2 linked regions of the Homo sapiens genome follow. The protein of the gene in region 2 interacts with the protein of the main gene of each other region in a biochemical or structural test. Each region holds a gene or a part of one and is shown on either strand. Other genes may lie near its edges.

Region 1 (11,323 bases), on a different chromosome or scaffold from region 2:
GGTACAGGGTTTCTTTTTGGAGTGATGAAAATGTTCTAAAATTATACAGTAGTAATAGTTGCACAAACCCGTAAATACACTAAAAGCCACTGAATTAACAGTTGACCCTCAAATAACATGGGTTTAAACTGCACAGATTCACCTGAGAATTTTCTTTCACCTCTGCAACCCTAGATGACAAAACCAACTCTTCCTTTCTCCTCAGCTTATTCAATGTGAAGACAAAGAGGATGAAGACCTTTACGACGACACATTTCCACTTCATGAACAGTAAACATATTTTCTCTCCTTTATTTCTTTTCTTTTCTTTTTTGAGACATTGTCTCGCTCTGTCACCCAGGCTAAGTGCCTATAATCCCAACATTTTGGGAGGCCAAGGCAGGCAGATCACTTGAGTTCAGGAGTTCTAGATCAGCCTGGGCAATATGGTGAAACCCCATCTCTATAAAAAATACCCAAAAAAGGCTGGGCTCAGTGGCTCACGCCTGTAATCCCAGCAATTTGGGAGGCCGAGGCAGGTGAATCACTTGAGGTCAGGATGTGGAGACCAGCCTGAGAAAAATGGTAAAATCCCATCTCTACTAAAAATACAAAATTAGTTGGGTGTGGTGGCACGCACTTGTAGTCCCAGCTACTCGGGAAGCTGAGGTGGGAGAGCTGCTTAAACCCAGGAGGCGGAGGTTGCAGTGAGCCAAGATCATGCCACCACACTCCAGCCTGAGTGACATGACTGCATGAGTTATACTACTACAAAAGTTATACTACTTGACTGCATGCGGGTAGGGAGGGGGGATAGTGTGAGCACCACAACCCTTGCATTGTTCAAGAGTCAACTACACTTTAAGAATGAATTTAATTCTATTTCTCGATAAAGCTGTTATTAAAAATTGTATAGTCATTCTAAATTTTGAATTATGCTAATTAATCTAACTCTGATATAGATATCAAAGTTTTGTTGCAGTTGTTATTTTAACTGAGGTACTTGGAAATGTAAATCAATATTTCAGGTATCCCAGCTCCTACGAAATTCTAACATCTAATTTCAATTTCTCTCCCTGCAATTTAATTCCACTCAACCTTGAGCCTTCAATGAAATAAATAAATAAACCTCAGCACTACCCACAAAATCTCTCCATGAACTTCAAAACTTTATGTCCTTGCCTCACTCCTCCTTCTATAATCTAAATGAATCCTTTACAAAGAAAGGCAACCTCAGATTGTTTTTTAGGCCTTATTACATCCTTTAGGCCCACAATCCTACACTAGAAGCATTTTATATTCACTTAATCCTTACTAAATTATCTCCAGTTTACCATGACGAGAAACATTTTAGTGATGACAAAGAACTTGCCTAAAATCACACAGCTAAAGTTCAGAAAAGTTCAGAAAAGCCAGGATTTGAACCCACATTAGCAGTCAGACTTGGTTACTGACACCGAATCAAAGTGACAAGAAAACAGCTTAAGCAGAAAACAGCTAATACCTAAAAATTTCGAACTACTTTCTGTGGTTCACTGTGGCTTGGTCATGTGCACTTGAGATCAAGTACACATGTGGGACAACATCTTGGGTAGAACTAGGGTCAGGATATTGATCTAGGTAACTAGGGAAACACACCTGCCCCAAAACAGCAAGTTCATACTCTTACTTCCTGATTTTGTATTCACTTAATTGTATCCATGCATGGTTCAAGAGCAGATGCAAGGGTCTTCTAGAGAGACACTGTAGCTTAAGAGAGGAGTACTAGCTTTGGAGCAAAACAGATTTAGATTCACATCTTCACTTGGCCATTCACTAGCTATTTGGCTTAAGACTATTCTAAATACTTAGCATCCTCATTTTCAGAATGAGGATAATACTCATCTTGCAAAGTTGCCTGAGGAATAAATGGGATAAGGTGGGTAAGTATTTAGCAGAATACCTGGCTCAGAGTAATAGCTCAATAAATGGTAAGCTGTTTTTAGTTAAGTGTGACACCTATGGTTTTAGTAAAACAAAATTATTCAGGTAAAGCAGCAGCATGTTAAAATATTTTTTTAAATGATATCTAAATTTGCACTTAAATTTGTCAATTCTGATGACAACTATTACTCTTCAAAGTTAACTTTTTCAGGCTGGGCGCAGTGGCTCACATCTGTAATCCCAGCACTCTGGGAGGCCAGGACGGGCAGATCACCTGAGATCAGGAGTTCAAGACCAGCCTGGCCAATACGTTGAAATCCCATCTCTACTAAAAATACGAAAATTAGCCAGGCATGGTGGTGCACACCTGTAGTCCCAGCTTCTAGGGAGGCTGAGGCAAGAGAATCGCTTGAACTGGGGAGGCGGAGGTTGCAGTGAGCCGAGATTGCACCACTGCACTCTAGCCTGGGTAACAGAGTGACACTGTCTCAAAAAAAAAAAAAAAAAGTTAACTTTTTCATAATATAAAACATTAAAAAAGCTGAGAGAAAAATCTGAAAACTACCGAAAAAAAGAGAAACACATATACCATAATTCTACAACCCCTAAAACACATTTTGTTGAATTACTGAACACTTAAAAAGCCATCTGTAGGCTGATGATGCAGTTGGGGAAAAGAGGAGTGTCATTCTGACCATTTCTCTTTCTCTGTATTTCATCAGCCTGTTTGAATTTCCAGAGGACAGGCAGGGAAAATGCTGGGGAAAACAAAAGTACAAGAGCCAGTCAGTTTTACCTTTCTTTTTGGGAGGCAAGTTTTCATACTGGAAAAGTTTTGAACTACCTGAAAACTTAGATTTGAGAAGAAAACTTAGATTTGAGGATTATTTGTGGAGTTTATTCTCATTCTCTTCCAGACTCATTACAAAAGATCTGAAAATTTGTTGACGATTTGAGAACTGCAGATAAATATGAATTTATCTTCTCCACACCTGCCCACTAAAAAATTACTTAGAAACATTATTACAAGGAAAGAAACAAAATCAAGCAAACATCTAATGCATTAGATGATTAAAGGATACATATTACAGCCTAAGTTGGAGAGAACATTACCCAACAAATGGCTTTTTTTCCCTGGGAGCTTCTACTGTGCAAGTCTGGGGATCTCCAGACCAGAGAAAAATCTTCCAGTTTAAACAAAATAACGAAAATGTTCCAATAACCAGATAACCTATCAAATAACCAGAATTTGAAGTGGGAAATGAAGGGCCATATCAATGGGGAGGAAAAATGGCACTGGTAATATCTAGAACAGAAAATAAACAGGAAATACTTTAAAAGGCCAAAATTTGCAAATACAGATTAACAGGGTATGAAATGAAATACGAGGCAATGCACCTGTTAAAGGAAAAAGGGGAACAGAGGATGTTTGAAGTCTTACGTATTTAGTGTTAACACTAATTCCTGATCTAGCTGTCATGTGGAAAGCATGCTGTCCAGAAGAAAACCTGGGTCCTGGCTTATTCCAAACTACACAGTACTTAATTTAAGTAGTAGTACTTAATCTCTCTCAGTGTCTTAATCTGTAAAATGGATACCCTTTATGTACTCACAGCTCTGTGTGAGTCACAAAAGAATTTTGAGCAGATGCTTTTTAACTCCAAAGTGCTGTACAAATCAGAGCATCCCTTTTCTCTTCACATTAGTTTGACATGGAATTTACTTCATAGATGGAAGAAAAATTATTTCAGGTACACTGATGATGAAAATGTGCCGAACGTGGTTAAACAAATTTAGGTGAGGACAATTATATAAGTTTACCTGAGAGGCCAGGCGCAGTGGCCTCACGCCTGTAATCCCAGCACTTTGGGAGGCTGAGGTGGGCGGATCACCTGAGGTCAGGAGTTCGAGACCAGCCTGGTTAAGATGGTGAAACCCCGTTTCTACTAAAAATACAAAAAAATAGCCAGGCGTGGTGGCGCACGTCTGTAATCCCAGCTACTCGGGAGGCTGAGGCAGGAGAATCACTTGAACCCGAGAGGCGGAGGTTGCAGTGAGCCGAGATCAAGCCATTGCACTCCAGCTTGTGCAACAAGAGTTAAACTCCGTCTCGAAAAAATATGTTTAGCTAAGAACAGATGAGTCTGAAGCAAGGGACTGAAAGTGCCACACAAATGGGCAAGCTGTAGAAACTGGTCGTATGAGGATTTCTTACAAACCACAAAAGCATATGCTTACATGAATATTCATCAATAACAAAAAAAATGCCACCAGTATTAACTGTAAACCACTTAGAAAATACCCAACAATATAATTTGTCCAAATCCCTCTACCAGCATTCCGGTGAGTGTGCGTGCTGTAGTCCTAACTCTTCTGTACATTACGACAGGACAAAACCCGCTTTTTATAAAACGTTTAGCAACTCGCCAAGAAACTGGCACACTTTACCTTTTTAATCGCTAAGCAAACATGTAGCACAGTTGAGATAACCAGGCGGACGTTCAGCCCTCTTCAAAAATAAGACACAGAAGTTTTACATTTTACCAGCCCGATGTCTAATACCGATCACAAGCCTCTATTTGATGCTCTTTCTAGATGTTGGCCACGGATCACGGAAGACTCCATTCTTTCAAGTTCTGAGGACTTTCTACGCTTCAATTCCTAAGCTAAATTGCCAAGGTTTTACTAGCACGAAAGTTTAAAGTCAACGGAGAGCGTGCCCTAATCCCTAAATCGATTAGGTTTATTACACGGCACCAGCGAGCAGGGACTGGAAATACAAGAGCGAGCGGGTCCTAACGCAGGTTGCCGCGGGACCCGACGCCCCGGGCCCGGACACCCTCCCCGGGGACGCGGGCGCGGCGGGCCCGGCTCCCAGACGGGAGGCTGCAGGGGGAGGGGAGGGAGAAGGAGGGAGGGGGCGGCCCCCTCGGGCCGGACCGCGGCCCGGCCTCCCTCCCGGCCCGCGCCGCTCGCCGCGCTCACCGCGTTCTTCTTCTGCACCATCTTGTCCATCTTCTTGGCAAAGCGGACCACTTCGTCCTCCATGGCTCCGGCAGGTCTTCTCCGCGCCCACCCCGCTGGCAAGGGGAAGTGGGCGAAGCTGGAGCGGAAGACACAGCAGGAGCGACCCCCGGCGCGCAGCAACCCCCACCACCGCAGGCCCGGGCCTAGGCCCCCTTCCTTACGAACGAAGCCCGCGGCGGCGGCGGCGGCGGCGGCGGCTCCGGCTCCTCCTCCCCAGGCAGCGACAATCGAACACCGCGCGCGACGTGCAGGCGCTACCAACTGACTGCAGATCGCTGGTGAGGGGCGAGCCCATGTTCCCGCCAGGCGGGCGTCGGGCTAGTGGGCAGGCGTGGCTTCCGGCTAGAGGGTCGTGGAAGGCGCCCGGTTTTGCTGCGCGTTCACCTCCGGTCCCGCCCCCTCACGGGGCGGGTTTTCGGCCCCCTATTGCATCGGGACATCCCGGAGTTTTAGAACTCGCGGAGGCCCAAGTATCTCGAAACGGGGGCAGATTCCGAGCATGGAACTTTGGCAGGTTTTAAAGTCTGTGGGAAGCCAAGCACTTTCTCCATAGGAGACTGCTACGGGGAAAAATGGAACCCGTGTCCTCTAAGTTAGGTTACGGAGTTACTCGTTTTAAGAGTTCCTTTTTTTTTGAGACGGAGCCTCGTTCTGTCGCCTGGCTGGAGTACAGTGGCGCGATCTCCACTCACTGCAAGCTCCCCCCCCCGGGTTCAAGCGATTCTCCTGCTTTAGTTTCCCGAGTAGCTGGGACTACAGGCGCCCGCCACCACGCCCTGCTAATTTTTTGTATTTTTAGTAGAGACAGGGTTTCACCATGTTGGCCAGGATGGTTTTGATCTCTTGACCTAGTGATCCGCCCGCCTCGGCCTCCCAAAGTGCTGCGATTACAGACCTGAGCCACTGCACCCGGCTAAGCGTTCCTTTTTTTAAAAAAAATCGGCCGGGCGCGGTGGCTCATGCCTGTAATCCCAGCACTTTGGGAGGCCGAGGCGGGCGGATCAACTGAGGTGAGGAGTTCGAGACCAGCCTGACCAACATGGAGAAACATCGTCACTACTAAAAATACAAAATTAGCCGGGCGTCATGGCCTGTGATCCCAGCCACTCGGGAGGCTGAGGCAGGAGAATCGTTTGAACCCGGGAGGCGGAAGTTGCGGTGAGCCGAGACTGCCATTGCATTCTAGCCTGGGCGACAAGAGCGAAACTCCGTCTCAAAAAAAATAAAAAATAAATAAAGGTGAAATCGTTCGTGAGCTCCTGGAGTACTAAGAACCAGTCTTGGGCATGGCATTTTGAATAGTTGAAGAACAGTTGACGGAAACCTTCTGGTCAGAAATTACACAAGGCATCCCACCAGCTTCTGAGGATCAGAGAGGAAGGTGACTTAAGTTGTGACAGGGTTCATAGTGGAGAATGCAGGCTCCTCCAAAAAGTCTTTCCCCACTTAAACCCTTCACGACCAACTCATGCTATTTGCAGGTATAACTCCCACACCACGTAACTATCATTCATCAAAATACACCGCCTAATAATGTTCTTTCTATACTGAGATGACAGGTTTTTCCTGGTTATGACTCACTCATTTGGGGGAGAAGTATTGGGATCGTTTCCCTATTTTGTTTCATTTTTAAATTATCTTTTTATTATTGATTTCCAGCTTAAATTGTAGTATTTGTTGAGATTTATTTTGTCAATTTTTTTTTTTTTTTGACACGGAGTTTTGCTCTTATTGACCAGGCTGGAGTGCAGTGGTGCCATCTCGGCTGGCTCACTGCAACCTCCACCTCCCAGGTTCAAGCGATTTTCCTGCCTCAGTCTCCTGAGTAGCTGGGACTACAGGCGCCCACCAGCACACCCGGCTAATTTTTTGTGTTTTTAGTAGAGACAAAGTTTCACCATGTTGGCCAGGCCGATCTCGAACTCCTGGCCTCAGGTGATCCGCCCACCTCGGCCTTCCAAAGTGCTGGGATTACAGGCGTGAGCCACTGCGCCCGGCCTATCTCGTCAATTTTTATGCATATCTATGTGTTCTAAAAAAGAACACACAGAAAAAAATTGTTTTCTACAGAAAATGTTGCAATATTTACATCCCTGTTTGCTGTCTGCTTCATGCCTCAATTAATGAGTATGTAAAAATTTCCCTTTATAATGTGGATTTGTACATTTATTGTAATAATTCTGTCATTTTTCTTTTTTCCCAAAGAATCAGTTGATGTTTTTCTTTAAAATACACATAACACAAAATTTATCCATTTAACTACTTTTCTTCTTTTTTCATGCTACCTTGTCTAAGACCATTTTTAACTATTTTTTTAGATTTTAATTCATTTTATTTTATTTTTTATTTTTTTTTAGACGGAGTCTCGGCCTATCACCCAGGCTGGAGTGCAGTGGCGTGATCTCGGCTCACTGCAACCTTTGCCTCCCAGGTTCAGGCAATTCTCCTGCCTCAGCCTCCCAAGTAGCTAGGATTACAGGTGCCCACCACCACGCCCTGGTAATTTTTGTATTTTTAGTAGAGATGGGATTTTACTATGTTAGGCAGGGTGTTCTCAAACTCCTGACTTCAGGTGATCTGCCCACCTCGGCCTCCCAAAGTGCTGGGATTGCAGGTGTGAGCCACCTCACCTGGCCTGTTTTAGCTATTTTAAAGTGTAAAGGCCTGGTGTGTGCATACCCAGTGTGCATGGGATACAGCAAAGGCAACACTCAGATGGAAATGTATAGCTGTAGATACCTATGTTTAAACATAAAGATCTCTGGCTGGGCGCAGTGGCTCACACCTGTAATCCCAACACTTTGGGAGGCCAAGGTGGGCGGATCACCTGAAGTCAGGAGTTCGAGAACAGCCTGGCCAACATAGTGAAACCCCGTCTCTACTAAAAATACAAAAATTAGCTGGTCCTGGTGGTGGCCGCCTGTGATCCCAGCTACTCGGGAGGCTGAGGCAGGAGAATCGCTTAAACCCAGGAGGTAGAGGTTGCAGTGAGCTGAGATGGCGCCACTGCACTCCAGCCTGGGTGACAGAGCAAGGTTCCGTCTCAAACATAAATAAATAAGTAAATATAAAATAAAAAAGTGTACAATTCAGTGGCATTTCTAATGATAACAATATAGTGCCACCATCACCACTCGATAGTTCCCAAAAGTTTTCCAAAAATGTTCATCACCTCAAAAAGAAACCCAGTATCAATTAAGCAGTCACTCCTGATTCCTTTCTCCCCTCAACCCTTGGCAACCACTAATTGGCTGCCTCTATACTCTTGAATATTCTGAACATTTTATATATTTAATAAATAGAATCCTAGAATATGTGACCTTTTCTGACTGGCTTCTTTCACTTAGCATGTTTTCAAGGTTCACCTGTGTTGTAGCCGTGTCAGTACTTCATTCCTTTTTATGGCTGAATAATATGCATTTCCTATAGATAACATTTTTAAAATTCATTCATCACATGATGGACATAAGCATTGTTTCCACCCACCTTTCACTACTCCACATTTTCACTCTTGTGAATAGTGCAGCTATGAACATGCCTGTACAAAGTTTTGTGGGAACACCTGTTTTCAGTTCTTTTGGGTGTGAACCTAGGAGTAGAATTGTTGGGTTTCATGGTAATTCTACATTTAAATTCGAGGAACTGTCCATCTGTTTTCCACAGCAACTGCAACATTTTTACATACCCATCGGAAACGTCATTGGGCTCGAACTTCTCTGTATCTTTGTCAACAATTGTTGTTGTCCTTTATTTTTATTTTTATTATTTCTTTTTTGATACAGTGTTTCGCTCTTATTGCCCAGGCTGGAGTGCAATAGCGTGACCTCAGCTCACTGGAACCTCGACCTCCCAGATTCAAGTGATTCTCCTGCCTCAGCCTCCGGAGTAGCTGGGATTACAGGTGCCTGCCACCATGCCTAGCGAATGGTTTGTATTTTTAGTAGAGACTGGGTTTCACCATGTTGGCCAGACTGGTCTTGAACTCCTGACCTCAGGTGATCTGCCCACCTTGGCCTCCCAAAGTGCTGAGATTACAGGAGTGACACACTGTGCCCAGCCTGTTTAGTTCATTTTTAGAATTCTAATTATCTGATGAGGTATGAAATGGTATCTCATTGTGTCTTTGATTGGCATTTTCCTAATATGTTAAGCATGTTTTCATGTGCTTGTTGGCCATTTCTGTGGTTTCTTTTTTTTTTTTTTTTGAGATGGGGTCTCACTAACAGAGTGACAACAGTCCAGGCTGGATTACAGTGGCACAATCTCAGCTCACTGTAGCCTCCACCTCCCGGATTCAAGCAATTCTCCCACCTCAGCCTCCTAAGTAGCTGGGATTCCTGGGGAGCACCAACACCCCCGGCTAATTTTCGCACTTTTAGCAGAGATGGGGCTTCACCATGTTGGCCAGGCTGGTCTGGAACTCCTGACCTCAGGTGATCCACCCACGTCGGCCTCTCAAAGTGCTGGGATTACAAGTATGAGCCACCTCCCCCGGCCTTCTATGGTTTCTTTAGAGAAATGTCTATTCTAGTCTTTTGCCCAATTTTTAACTGAGTTGTGTTTATGTTGTTAAGTTGTAAACGTTCTTATATAATTCTGGACTCTAGAGCCTTGAGATAAATATGCTTTTCAATCATTGTCTCCCTTCCCATTTTGTGGGTTATCTTTTCAGTCTTTTTTTTTTTTTTTTTTTGAGACAGGGTCTCACAGTCGCCCAAGCTGAGTCCTGTGGCGTGATCACAGCTCATTGCAGCCTCCACTTTTTGGGTTCAAGCAAATCTCTTGCCTCTGCCTCCTGAGTAGCTGGGACTACAGGCACACACCACCATGCCCAGCTACTTCTGGATTATTTGTAGAGAGAGGGTCTTACTATGTTGCCCCGGCTGGTCTCAAACTCCTGAACTCAAGCAATCCTCTCGCCTCGGCCTTCCAAAGTGCTGGGATTCCAGATGTAGGCCACCTCGCCCAGCCTCTTTTCAGTCTCTTGATATTGACCTTTCATGCACAAACTTTATATTTTACCAAAGTCCAATTCATATATTGCTTTTGTTACTTGTGCTTTTGGTGTCAAATCTCAGAAAGAGTTGCAAATCCAAGGTCATGAAGATTGACCATTGCCATTTTAACAACATTAAGTCTATCAATTCATTACAACGGGATATCTTTCCATTTATTTAGATCTATTTTAATTTCTTTAAGCAATATAACATAATTTTCAGTGTGCAACTCTTGGCTAAATTCACCTCATTGGCTAAAATTATTCTTGGTATTTTATTTTGTTATTTATTTATATTATATTTTATTAATTTTTATTTTATTGAGACAGGGTTTTGCTCTGTCACTCAGGTGGAGTGCAGTGGCACAATCATACCTCACTACAGCCTCAATGTCTTGGGCTCAAGAGATCCTCCCACCTTGGCCTCCCAAAGTGCTGGGATTACAGGGATGAGCCATGGTTCCCTGCCCTAATCTTTTCTTTTGTCTCTAATTAATCTTTATTATTTCCTTCTGACATTTTGCAGTTTACTTTTCTTCTCTTTTTCCAATTCCTTAAGCCATAAAGTTAGGTAATTAATGTCAGATTTTTCTTCTTTTTTTTTTTTTGAGACGGAGTTTCACTCTTGTTGCCCAGGCTGGAGTGCAATGGCGTGATCTCTGCTCACTGCAACCTCCACCTCCCGGGTTCAAGCAATTCTCCTGCCTCAGCCTCCCAAGTAGCTGGGATTATAGGCACGTGCCACCACGTCCAGCTAATTTTGTATTTTTAGTAGAGACGGGGTTTCTCCATGTTGGTCAGGCTGGTCTCGAACTCCCGACCTCAGGTGATCCACCCGCCTCAGCCTCTCAAAGTGCTGGGATTACAGCCATGAGCCACTGCACCTGGCGGAGATTATTCTTTTTGAGCTATAAATTTCCCTCTGAGCACTGTTTTCACTGCATTTCATAAATTTTGGTATATCGTAGCTTTGTTTTCATTTGTCTCAAAATATTGTTCTATTTTCTGATTTCTTTTTGAAGTTGTGTGAATGTATTATTTGAACATAATTGTGAAATTACTTTTTCCTTCTGTTATTTATATCTAGCTTCATCACATTATAGTTAAAGAAATACTTTGTATGATTATGATTTTTAAAAATTCTTTGGCCGGGCATGGTGGCTCACACCTGTGATCCCAGCATTTTGGAAGGCTGAGGTGGGAGGATTGCTTGAGCTCAGGAGTTCAAGATCAAACACCATAGGGAGGCAACATAGTGAGATCTCACCTCTACTAAAAATTAAAAAAAAAAAAAAAATAGCCAAGCATGGTGGCATGTACCTGTACTCCCAGCTACTGGGGAGGCTGAGGTGGGAGGATCACTTGAGTCTGGGAGACAGAGGTTGCAGTGAGCTATGA
Region 2 (11,520 bases):
AGTTTTCTTCATTCTGTGGCTCACTGAGACATTCTTATTCCACAAATGAAAAACAGAAGGTTGGAGTAAAAAAGATTGTATGGCATGATCACCTTCTAGAAGCAATAAATGGATACGCTCAAGCAACATTAATTAGATACTACAGGTTGGTGCAAAAGTAATTGCGGTTTTTGCCATTACTTTTAATTAATATTAATATATTAATATTAATATAATTATCCTATTTTATAGATTTAGGAAACTGAGGCAAAAAGAGGTTAAGAAAGTGGCACAAGGTCACACAAGTAGAAATGGAATTCAAATATGAGTCTAACTGATTCCAAAGCCTGTATGTTAACCTTTATAATTTCAAAAAGCTAAATCATAACCAACATTATTGTGCCCCCTCTAAAGATAAGCATTACCCAAAGAGGATGGTCTGCTTATAATCAAGAAAGAGAAGCATGAACATCTCAGTGCAGCACATACTCAGTCTAGAGAAGGAAAGTGCCCTCACCAGCTGAGTATTCCTGTCCTCTTGGGGGACACACCTCTGCAGTGGTATTAGATGCCGGGGCCTACGGCACTGAGATGGCCCGTCTCACACTGACCAACTTGCTGGCTTTCCTTCGATTGCATGCACAACAACAACCTCTAGTTATTAGTCTCCCAGGTCAATTTTACTAAAAACAAAGGACACACTGGCTAGCAGACACACGTATTTTAGGCCTCTTGGCAGTTATAATAACCACTGGAATTAAATACATTGACATTCTGGTTTACCTAACAGTCTCTTGTAAGTCTGGTTAGCATGACCTGGTTCCCTAAGAAACAGCAACTTTTAGTGTATTTGACAAAATAACCTTTGAACCTTCAGAACTATGCACAAGATCTTGGTTCTTGCTGAATCATACCGTGGGGTTACATCAATCAGGTGGCAGGCATTACAGAAACATCTATGTTTCACTGCTTTTACCATAAGAAATAATACATAATAATAATAACAGTTACCTGAAGGTGAGTTTCGTTTTAAAGACTGCTTGTCCCTGTAGACCAGTACCTTGTCTTATAAAAAGATGATTGTGGTCGCCCTGCAGTGGGGCTTTGTACACATCAAACACTTCATTGCCTAAATGCAGGGACATGCTGGAAAGAGAAACATTTCATCTATTAAAGTCATAAAGCTTTCACTCTACCATCTTACTTCACTTAAAGGTGATTCAGGCTGGGCACAGTGGCCCACATGTGTAATCCCAGCACTTTGGGACACCAAGGCAGGTGGATCACGAGGTCAGGAGTTTGAGACAAGGCTGGTCAACATGGTGAAACCCCATCTCTGGTAAAAATACAAAAATCAGCTAGGCATGGAGGCACACCCCTGTAGTCCCAGCCTTCGGGAGGCTGAGACAGGATAACTGCTTGAACCCGGGAAGTGGAGGTTGCAGTGAGCCAAGATCGTGCCACTGCACTCCAGCCTGGGCGACAGGACAAGACTCCATCTCAAGGAAAAAAAAAAACAAAACAAAACAGGTGATTCAACTGCTGCTCTCTCTTTTTACACAGAATTTGGAAGGAACGAAAATAAGAAGTCATAATGAGAAAAACTGATGGACTACAAAGAACTAACACATGCTGGGATGTTTACCAGGCTCTACTACATTCCCAGTGAAGGGCAATTTTTTTAAAATGTCAATTTGTGGCTGGGCACGGTGGTTGACGCCTGTAATCCCAGCACTTGGGAGATGGGAGGATCGCTTGAGCCCAGGAGTTCAAGACCAGCCTAAGCAACATATGGAGAACTGTGTCTATGAAATTTTTTCTTTTTTTTTTTTTTGAGACGGCATCTAGTTCTGTTGCCCAGGCTGGAGTGCAGTGGCGCGATCTCGGCTTACTGCAACCTCCGCCTCCTGGGTTCAAGGAATTCTCTGCCTCAGCCTCCTGAGTAGCTGGGATTACAGGCGTCCGCCATCACACCCAGCTAATTTTTAGTAAAGATGGGGTTTCACCATCTTGGCCAGGCTGGTCTTGAACTCCTGACCTCGTGATCCACCCACCTCGGCCTCCCAAAGTGCTGGGATTACAGGCGTGAGCCACCGTGCCTGGCTCTTTTTTTTTTTTAATAATCCATGCAGGGTGGTGCACACCAAGTAGTCCCAGCTACTTGGGAGATGGGAGGATCACTTAGGACTAGGAGTCTGAGGCTCCACTGAGCTGTTATCATGTCATTACACTCCAACATGGGCAACAGAGTGAGACCCCATTTCTAAAACTAATAATAAATTTAAAACTAAAAAGTATTTCAAAACTTGATCCCTCTGACCCGTTCTGGGTATGTCAATACCCTTCAGGCGTTTTGTGCTCACCTTCCATCTGACCACTTGACTATCCGAGCATTGCTTTCTTTAATTTCATTTCCTTCTTCATCTCGGCGTATCCTCCATCTTATAGTATTTTCTACCTGTTTCACAACACAAGTACTTTAGAAAATTATAGTTTAAATGACTCTATGCATCTTGTTTTTCCTCAAGAGGCACATAATCACAGAATAAGCATACAGAGGTGACAGATGTATGTGTGGCAGGAGAATGAACAACACTGAAACCCTCTTTAATCACCTAGAGAGGTTGGATAAATTAAAAGCAGGGAAAAAAATATGCTTAAGTGAATTTCTGAGCTCCTAGAATCATAATCATAGAGAAAGCTTAGAGCATTTGAGCAGATGGCAGATACTAAATGTACACTAACCCCGAGATGTGTTAAGACAGTAAGAATTACAAGGGTCAGGCGATAAAACTTGAGTCCATGTGAGGCAGAAATTTTTTTTTTTTTTTTTTTTTGAGACGGAGTCTTGCTCTGTCGTCCAGGCTGGAGTGCAGTGGCGCAGTCTTGGCTCACTGCAAGCTCCGCCTCCCGGGTTCACGCCATTCTCCTGCCTCCGCCTTCTCAGTAGCTGGGATTACAGGCGCCCACCTCCAAGCCCGGCTAATTTTTTCATATTTTTTAGTAGAGACAGGGTTTCACCGTGTTAGCCAGGATGGTCTCGATCTCCTGACCTCATAATCCGCCCGCCTGGGCCTCCCAAAGTGCTGGGATTACAGGCGTGAGCCACCACGCCCGGCCGAGGAAGAAATTTTGAAGTGAAACCCCTGTATAAAGCAAGTTCTCTCACAGAGCTAAAAACTCCATAAAAATGAGACCAAAAACTCTGCCTATTGGCACAGAGAGATAAACTTCCCATATATGAATAAGGATAAATAAGTGCCCTATGAAAATGAAAACCCCAGATTTCAATAGGTTTAGAGCCTAACTATCTTACCTGCATGGTGGGGAAACACCAGAGTTGGCAAATGAAAACCACTGTTACTGAAAGTAAAGTCAGTGGGATCTCCAGGAAAACATGGCATACTAAACGCATGCAGTTTATCACTGCTGCCTCCTGGAAACCCACTAAAATGACAATGAAGAGTAAAAACAGGACATACAAGGATAGAAAGAATGAGAATGAAGCTGGCAACAGACAGAAGCCAACAATGTGAAAACTGCCAATGCCAAGACCATGCTTCCCTCTGCCTGTTCCCCCAGTGTCAATCCTAAACACAGCTGCTCCCAGTCCCACGGAGATCGTCTGGATCTCCACTCCTTTAGCTGCAAATGTCTGTGCAGCTGGGTCCTAATGATTCCCCCTTCCAGTTTTTCCCCTTTCCCTATTTATTCCTCACAAATAGCTATAAAGTGTGCTGATTGAATAACTCCATCATATTTATGAATTAAACATGATGTCATACCTGAAATTTGTTTCAGAATAGTCTGGGGAAGCTGGGGTGGGGAATATGTAGATGACAAAAGATTGTTAACTCGACAACTGTTGAAGTGGGTCATGGGCACATGAAAGAGTTCATTATATTGTTTTTAATACATTGGTGTATGTTTGAAATTTTCAGATTGAAAACAAAACAATCTGTCACTATTCCTGTCTTCCATCTCATACAATAGGTTGGCCACATATAAATACACAAATATGCCGGGTGCAGGGCTCACACCTGTAATCCCAGCACTTTGGGAGGCCGAGGCAGGCAGATCACCTGAGGTCAGGAGTTCAAGACCTACCTGGCCAACACAGTGAAACCCCATCTCTGCTAAAAATATACAAAAATTACCCGGGCATGGTGGCATGTGCCTGTAATTCCAGCTACTCGGGAGGCTGAGGCTGGAGAATTGCTTGAACCCGGGAGGCGGGGGTTGCAGTGAGCTGAGATTGCGCCACTGCATTCCAGCCTGGGCGACGACAGAGCAAGACTCCATCTCAAAAAAAAAAAAAAAAAAACCACAAATAGGCCATTATTAATTGAGAAGCCGTTCTAAAAAATGCTTTCTATTATATAAAGTGATTCAAATAGTAATGATGCTATAATAGGACACATTGCTAGGTCTTAACCTATCAGGATGAAGGACACATAATAGTATTTCTGAAGACAGGGGACCTCAGAGAGGTACATAAGCTGTACCTGGTTCCCTGGTTCCTTGTTCTTAAAGAATTAACTACACCATGCTTTAAGACTGGTCAGCGTAGTCTTAAACATCACTCAAGAAAATAAGGGTCCAGGGTTATTTCCTATCACACACCAAGGTTTTAAGACAACAGTTTATGTTAAACACCAACATTTTGTAGTCTGATGCACTGAAATTTTAGGGTAAAATACATATTTATAAATTTTTTTTTGGGGGGGAGACAGGGTCTCGCTGTGCTGCACAGGCTGGAGTGCAATGGCACAATCACAGCTCACTGCAGCCTCAAACTCCTGGGCTCAAGCAATCCTCCCGCCTCAGCCTCCTGGAGTAGCTGTGACTATGGGCATGCGCCATCTCTGCTGGCTAATTTTTTTTTATTTTTAGTAGAGACAAGGTCTTGCTCTGTTGCTCAGGCTGGTCTGAAACTCCTGGCCAGTCTTCTCACCTCGGCCTCCCAAGGTACTGGAATTACAGATATGCGGCACCATGCCCGGCCTTTGAAGTCTGACACCCATACTAGAATCTGGTATCACATGGTCTAAAAATATAATAGATATATTGATACTAGCTGTAGCATCATGACAGAAAGTAAGAAAAAGGAAAAAGACAAAATTAAATAAATTGATAAAAAGTGAATAAGGAACTACTATATTAGTTTATATGTATATGACAGGAAACAATGAAAAGTAGTAGAATTAAAGCCAGAGGCACTAAAACAACCATGAAAAATTGATACTGCTAAGCCTAAATCAATACATCCATGTGTCCCAAAGAAATAATATTAACAGATGGGCTAATAAACAGATGAGTAGATGGGTGGTGGAGGGAGGACAGGAAAAAAAAATAGTGTAAGCAGTATATCTGTTGACTGTGTGATCTTGAACAAATTATTAGCACCTGTTTATCTCAGTTTTCTTATTTGATTTGCATTTCCATTAAGAGGAGTAGTGAAGTCTCACTGAAAAGCTTTTGGATAGAAACCATCTTATATCAAGGTTATTTAGGTAGTTGTTAATATACCACATTGAAGAGATGGTACTATTAAAAATATAAAAATTCAGTGCCTAAAAAATGCCAGACTATCCCTTTCTAACAATTTAATAAGGTACCAAGGCCAGGCGCGGTGGCTCACACCTGTAATCCCAGCTCTTTGGGAGGCCGAGGTGGGTGGATCACCTGAGGTCAGGAGTTCGAGACCAACCTGGCCAACATCGTGAAACCCTGTCTCTACTAAAAATACAAAAATTAGCTGGGCATGGTGGTGCATGCCTGTAGTCTCAGCTACTTGGGAGGCTGAGGCAGGAGAATCACTTGAACCCAGGAGGCAGAGGTTGCAGTGAGCTGAGATCATGCCACTGCCCTCCAGCGTGGGCGACACAGCGATGCTCCTTCTCAAAAAAAAATATATAAATACCCACTAGAAAATAAGAAATTTACAGGAAATCCTTCGGATTTAAGAATTGAAAATGCATAATTCCAGTTTCAGTATCATGCATTCAACCACCTCTTGTTCCCTTGTGCAACTCAATTCTAAAATGTCTACTTGGCCAAGTGCAGTAGCAATCATGCCTGTAATCCCAGCAATTTGGGAGGTCAAGGCGGGAGGATCACTTGAGCTCAGAAGTTCAAGATCAACCTGGGCAACACAGCAAGACCTCATATCTACAGAAAAAAAAAAAAGGCTGGGCATGGTGGCATGTTTTCTGTAGTCCCAGCTACTCAGGAGGCTGAGATGGGAAGATCACTTGAACCCAGGAAATTGAGGCTGCCAAGAGCTGGGTTTGTGCCGCTGTACTCCATCCTGAACAACAGAGCAAGACCGTGTCTCAAAATAAAAAGATGAAACTTCTGCTGAACCTACATCCTCCTTACTTAAAAGATTAGAGGCCCTCCTTTGATAGCGTGACCAGATGGTATAAGGTATCAAAGAGAAGCATTAATGGGAATTTAGTACAATAAAATTCTTTCCTAATAGTCAACAAAAGCAATCAAAAGAACACAGCCATATAGTGAAGTGTTAGGTAAAAAAATCACTTTCAAAAGCTCAAGTTTCAAGTTAGTATCTCCAGGTTTTACTTTATAAAAGAAAAAAAAGGAAAAAGCATGAAATGGTACCTTTAATTTTAACCTGGTTCTACCTTCTTCATCCAGCATTTCTTCATCTTCAAATTCATCTTCATAATACTGAGGATCAAAAGGTCTACAAATTGTTTTCCAAATAAACTATTAATCATATTTTATAAAGAATATTACTGCTATGTAATAACATCTCTATTAATAAACACCATTATATCAAAAAATCATAATATAATTTTAAAAATCATAATGATCAATATCTTCATGCTTAACTTCAAGGAAGTAGTAATTGTACTTTTTTCTTTTTTTTTTTTTTTGAGACCGAGCTTTGCTCTTGTTGCCCAGGCTGGAGTGCAATGGCACGATCTCGGCTCACCACAACCTCCGCCTCCCAGGTTCAAGCGATTCTCCTGCCTCAGCCTCCCGAGTAGCTGGGATTACAGGAATGCGCCACCATGCCTGGCTAATTTTGTATTTTTAGTAGAGACAGGGTGTTTCTCCATGTTGGTCAGGCTGGTCTCAGACTCCTGACCTCAGGTGATCCGCCCTCCTCGGCCTCCCAAAGTGCTGGGATTATAGGTGTGAACCACCACACCCGGCCAGTAATTTTACTTCTTAAAATTTGTTGTTAATACATATTGCTTGAAATAAAGTACAAGCAAGGGTAAATATTCAAAATATCCTTTCTTCTTCTTATGTAACTCTGCCAAAGAATAGGCAACATATGCTCTAGCTTTCCACATCATTGTGCCTGTGGAAAAAAAATTTTAAAAGCACAAGAGCTCGAGTAAACTTAGTAAATAATACCCATCAAACACTGTCTAATTGTCCAAAACCATTACCTTTTCTAGACCAACAATAGCTGCTACAGTGGACACTGGCATTTCTCTAGCAAATTTCATCGCTTTCAATTTCAGCCTTTTCAGGGTTGTACTAATTAAAAAAATACCTTGAACACTTGTGGTGTCTGTTAATTCATAAGAAAGTATCAAACTGCTAAAAACAATCATAGCATTAAAAGCCTCCCTTACTAATACATATTTTTTCTATCTCAGGATGTGCTTGACTAATTTTTTCAGAGATACACGATCAATTTTCCGTTTTTGTGATTTGTCAACTCAATGCGAAATAAGAAAAATAAACATTCTATGTATTTCTACTCAACATCCTGAAAAAATTTTAATTGATTTCCTTACCTGGGCTCTACACTGAGAAAGTTGGGCAGTTTAACAAAATATAAGTCGTTTCCTAAATCAGTGTTTACTTTGGGTATTTCTACTTCTATTCTGGTCTCAGGAATTGGCTCCTCTTCCTGTTGATCCTGAGGCAATCCATTTTCATCCTAGTGAAAGAATCGGAAGTTTGGAGCTTGACAGGACCTTAGAAATGGCTTCCTTCAACCTCCACACTTTAATTACTCTGGGGTGCAAGAAACATAATTAGATATCACTTTAGGACTAAAGAAGTCCCCAGTCCCCATCCCAACCCACCTACACACAAAATGGGAAACGATCAATTTGGATACCTCAGTACAAAAAACTATCTCCTTTATGATAAATCTGTCTTCCAAATACTCAACAAAAGTGTGAAATTAACACTTCAATAGGAAGTCACTCTATCAATTAAAACCAGAGAAGATTATCAACATAGCAGACACTTCTTGGCATGAGCAAGAAAAACATTCAAGTCAATGGTTCTCAAATCACAAGTCCTCACAGTTCAGTCCCCTAAGGCATGACACCAACCTCATGTTTGGCAGTTATTTCCACTCCCCCTTATAACCAAGAGTTCCCTACATAATGAAGAAAGTCATCTGTTCATGGTATTTTCATACTAGAATTCAGTTATCAACTTCCTTTCCTGGAATAAGGGAGACTCTTCACCTTTGAAACTTTATGCCTGGCCTTGAATAAGTTCATGTTACTAACTGACTTACAACAGGCTGTCCTGGAGTAGGTGGTTTGTCTTCTCCATCACTCCCTGAAGAGATATCATCTGCACCTCCAAATAAATCCATGGTTCCACTATTATCTTCAATGCAGAAGGAAAAAGGCATTAGTGTTACTATCTGTAACTAAGGTTCTTCACAGCTGATCACTTCAACACATTCCCAAGGTTTCTGGACCAGCATCAGAAAACCACCAAAAACATAATGCTGAGCCTGGCTCTCAAAGACCCAACCAGAGAGTGTGGGGAGAGGGAAGGGGGCAAATCTAGTGAAAGGCAAGCTGCACAGGAGGCACTTATTTCTCCTTTCATTTTCACCATCCTTGTTCTCCCACTTTCCTTTATTCCCCAGGAGCCCAAATGTTTCCTACAGTCTAGATGCTCAAAGTTGGGGCTGAAGCACTCCACAGACACCCATTTTCCATAAGTCTATCCCAGATTCAAAATTACAGTCCAGGCATAGTGGTTCATGCCTGTAATCCCAGCACTTTGGGAGGCCAAGGCAGGTGGATCACTTAAGGTCAGGAGTTTGACACCAGCCTGACCAACATGGTGAAACCCCGTCTCTACTAAAAATACAAAAACTAGCTGGGCTTGGTGACAGGTGCCTGTAATCCCAGCTACTTGGGAGGCTGAGGCAGGAGAAAGGAAGCTGCCACACCTGGCGGTAGAACTCCTTTCATCCTTCCAACTTATAATACCAGGTGGTGGTGGTGGTGGTGGTGGTGGTGGTGGTGGTTGCGGTTGTTGTTGTTGTTTTGAGACAGAGTCTCACTGTTGTTGCTCAGGCTGGACTGCAGTGGTGCGACCTTGGCTTACTGCAACCTCTGCCTCCCGAGCACAAGCGATTCTCGTGCCTCAGCCTCCCAAGTAGCTGGGACTACAGATGCACACCACCTCGCCCCGCTAATGTTTTGTATTTTTAGTACAGACAGGGCTTCACCATGTTGGCCAAGCTGGTCTTGAACTCCTGGCCTCAAGTGATCCACCCACCTTGGCCTCCCAAAGTGCTGGGATTACAGGCGTGAGCCACTGCACCCAGCCAACACTGGGTTTTTATGAGCTCTTCATCTAACTCACAGCTCAAAGAATCAGTTTCTTCATCTAAGTCAAGAACTTAGGAACAAAACACCGAGACTGTCATTATTCAAAGTGAAGAATGGACATTGTAACCTCCATCCCAATAAGAAGGTCAGCCCCCTAATAATGAATTCACTCTAACTATAAACAGACTGGGCGCAGTGATTCACGCCTGTAATCCCAGCACTTCGGGAGGCTGAGGTGGGTGGAACACTTGAGATCAGGAGTTCGAGACCAACCTGGCCAACATAGTGAAACCCCACCTCTACTAAAAATACAAAAAATTTAGCCAGGCATGGTGGTACGTTCCTGTAATTCCAGCTACCAGGAGGCTGAGGGAGGAGAATTGCTTGAACCCAGGAGGCAGCAGTTGCAATAAGCTGAGCTTGCACCACTGCACTCCAGCGTGGGTGACAGAGCAAGACTCTGTCTCTTAAAAAAAAAAAAAAAAACTACAAAGAGGCAGGTTCTTCTTCAACTAATTAAGCATGAGCAGCTTCTCATAGCTATATAACTTCTCTGAGTACACTGAGCGTATCCACACTCTTATTCTGTGGGTCTGGCGATCTGGGGTAAACACACTCAGGGTTAGAAATGCACTACAGTTAAATACAGAAAGAGGTATGGAAATATACATATATATATAATAATAGGGATACCTTTTGGCACCTCAGTGTCACTATCCGCTTCTGAATCAGATGCAATCGCATTCTTGCGTTTCATTCGTAAAACTTCATCTTCACTATCACTGCCTCTTGCAGATTCTATAAGGGTAGAATTAGAAGTTCTGCATAATCAGTCGCATTAGTTGAATTTTGTGTTTTAAAAGCAATATTGGAGATAAACAAATTGTGATACAATGGACTACTACTCAGCAATAAAGAGGAATGAACTGCTGATACATGTAACCAATTGGATGAATCAAAAATGCTATATGCCAAGTTAAAGAGGCCAATCTGAAAGACTACATACTTACTGTATAACTCTATTTATATGACATTTCCAAAAAACCAAAAGTTTAGTGACAGAAAAGACCAGTAGGTGCCAGGGTTTAGGGGTAGCAGAAAGATACGACTCAAAAGGGATAGCATAAGGGAGTTTTTCAGTGTGACAGCGATTCTGCATCCTGAGTGTGGTGGTGGTTAGACAAATCTATAGATATGTTAACATGAATAGAGCTGTACATGCAGAACATGCCCCCCCCCCAAAAAATTAACTCTAGTGTGTGTTAATTTAAAAAACAGAATTCTTAAAATAAATACTGGTGCCAGTTGTGGTGGCTCATGCCTGTAATCCCAGCACTTTGAGAGGACGAGGTGGGTGGATCACTTGAGGTCAGGAATTCAAGACCAGCCTGGCCAACATGGTGAAACCCATCTCTACTACAAATACAAAAATTAGCCGGGTGTGGTAGCGTGCACCTGTAGTCCCAGCTACTTAGGAGGCTGAGGCAAGAGAATCATTTGAACCTGGGAGACTGATGGTGCAGTGAGCCAAGATCGCACCACTGCACTCCAGCCTGGGTGACAGAGCGAGACTGTCTCAAATAAATAAATATACTGGCTTTGCAAGTACAAAAACTTGGTAGAAATGAGAAAAGTAGCACTAAAACTTATCAAATTTACATAAGACAAATTTCAGGGAAAAAAAGGTAAAAAGATTAAAAAGGAACTGACAAATATATCATTATTTCTAGAAGGGCCAATTATTTACGTAAAAATGTCACAAAAATCAACAGAACCACTGTTGAACTAGTAAGAGATAAGCAGAATGACCAGCTACAAGGTTCCCTACTATGACCCTGCCCTTGACTTGGTCTTCTAGTATTTGGGATGTAGTACATGAGCCTTAAAGATTCTTTCTGGTAACAGTAAAAACAGCCCTACTTTCGGCCAGGCATGGTGGCTCTTGCCTGTAATCCCAGCACTT

The links.
Region 1: the proteins of LEO1 (region 2) and TCEA1 form a complex in vitro, tested with the Homo sapiens proteins (2 studies listed by BioGRID and IntAct).

The regions. Positions count from the first base shown.
Region 1 is NC_000008.11:54,017,176-54,028,498, forward strand, and holds the start of TCEA1 (transcription elongation factor A protein 1), read right to left. Parts: upstream 5,274-11,323; 5' UTR 4,951-5,273; coding exon 4,888-4,950; exon of another isoform or gene 4,858-4,887; intron 1-4,857.
Region 2 is NC_000015.10:51,952,139-51,963,658, forward strand, and holds part of LEO1 (RNA polymerase-associated protein LEO1), read right to left. Parts: intron 10,356-11,520; coding exon 10,251-10,355; intron 8,596-10,250; coding exon 8,501-8,595; intron 7,907-8,500; coding exon 7,761-7,906; intron 6,689-7,760; coding exon 6,604-6,688; intron 2,438-6,603; coding exon 2,343-2,437; intron 1,126-2,342; coding exon 991-1,125; intron 1-990. UniProt on the Homo sapiens protein: Component of the PAF1 complex (PAF1C) which has multiple functions during transcription by RNA polymerase II and is implicated in regulation of development and maintenance of embryonic stem cell pluripotency.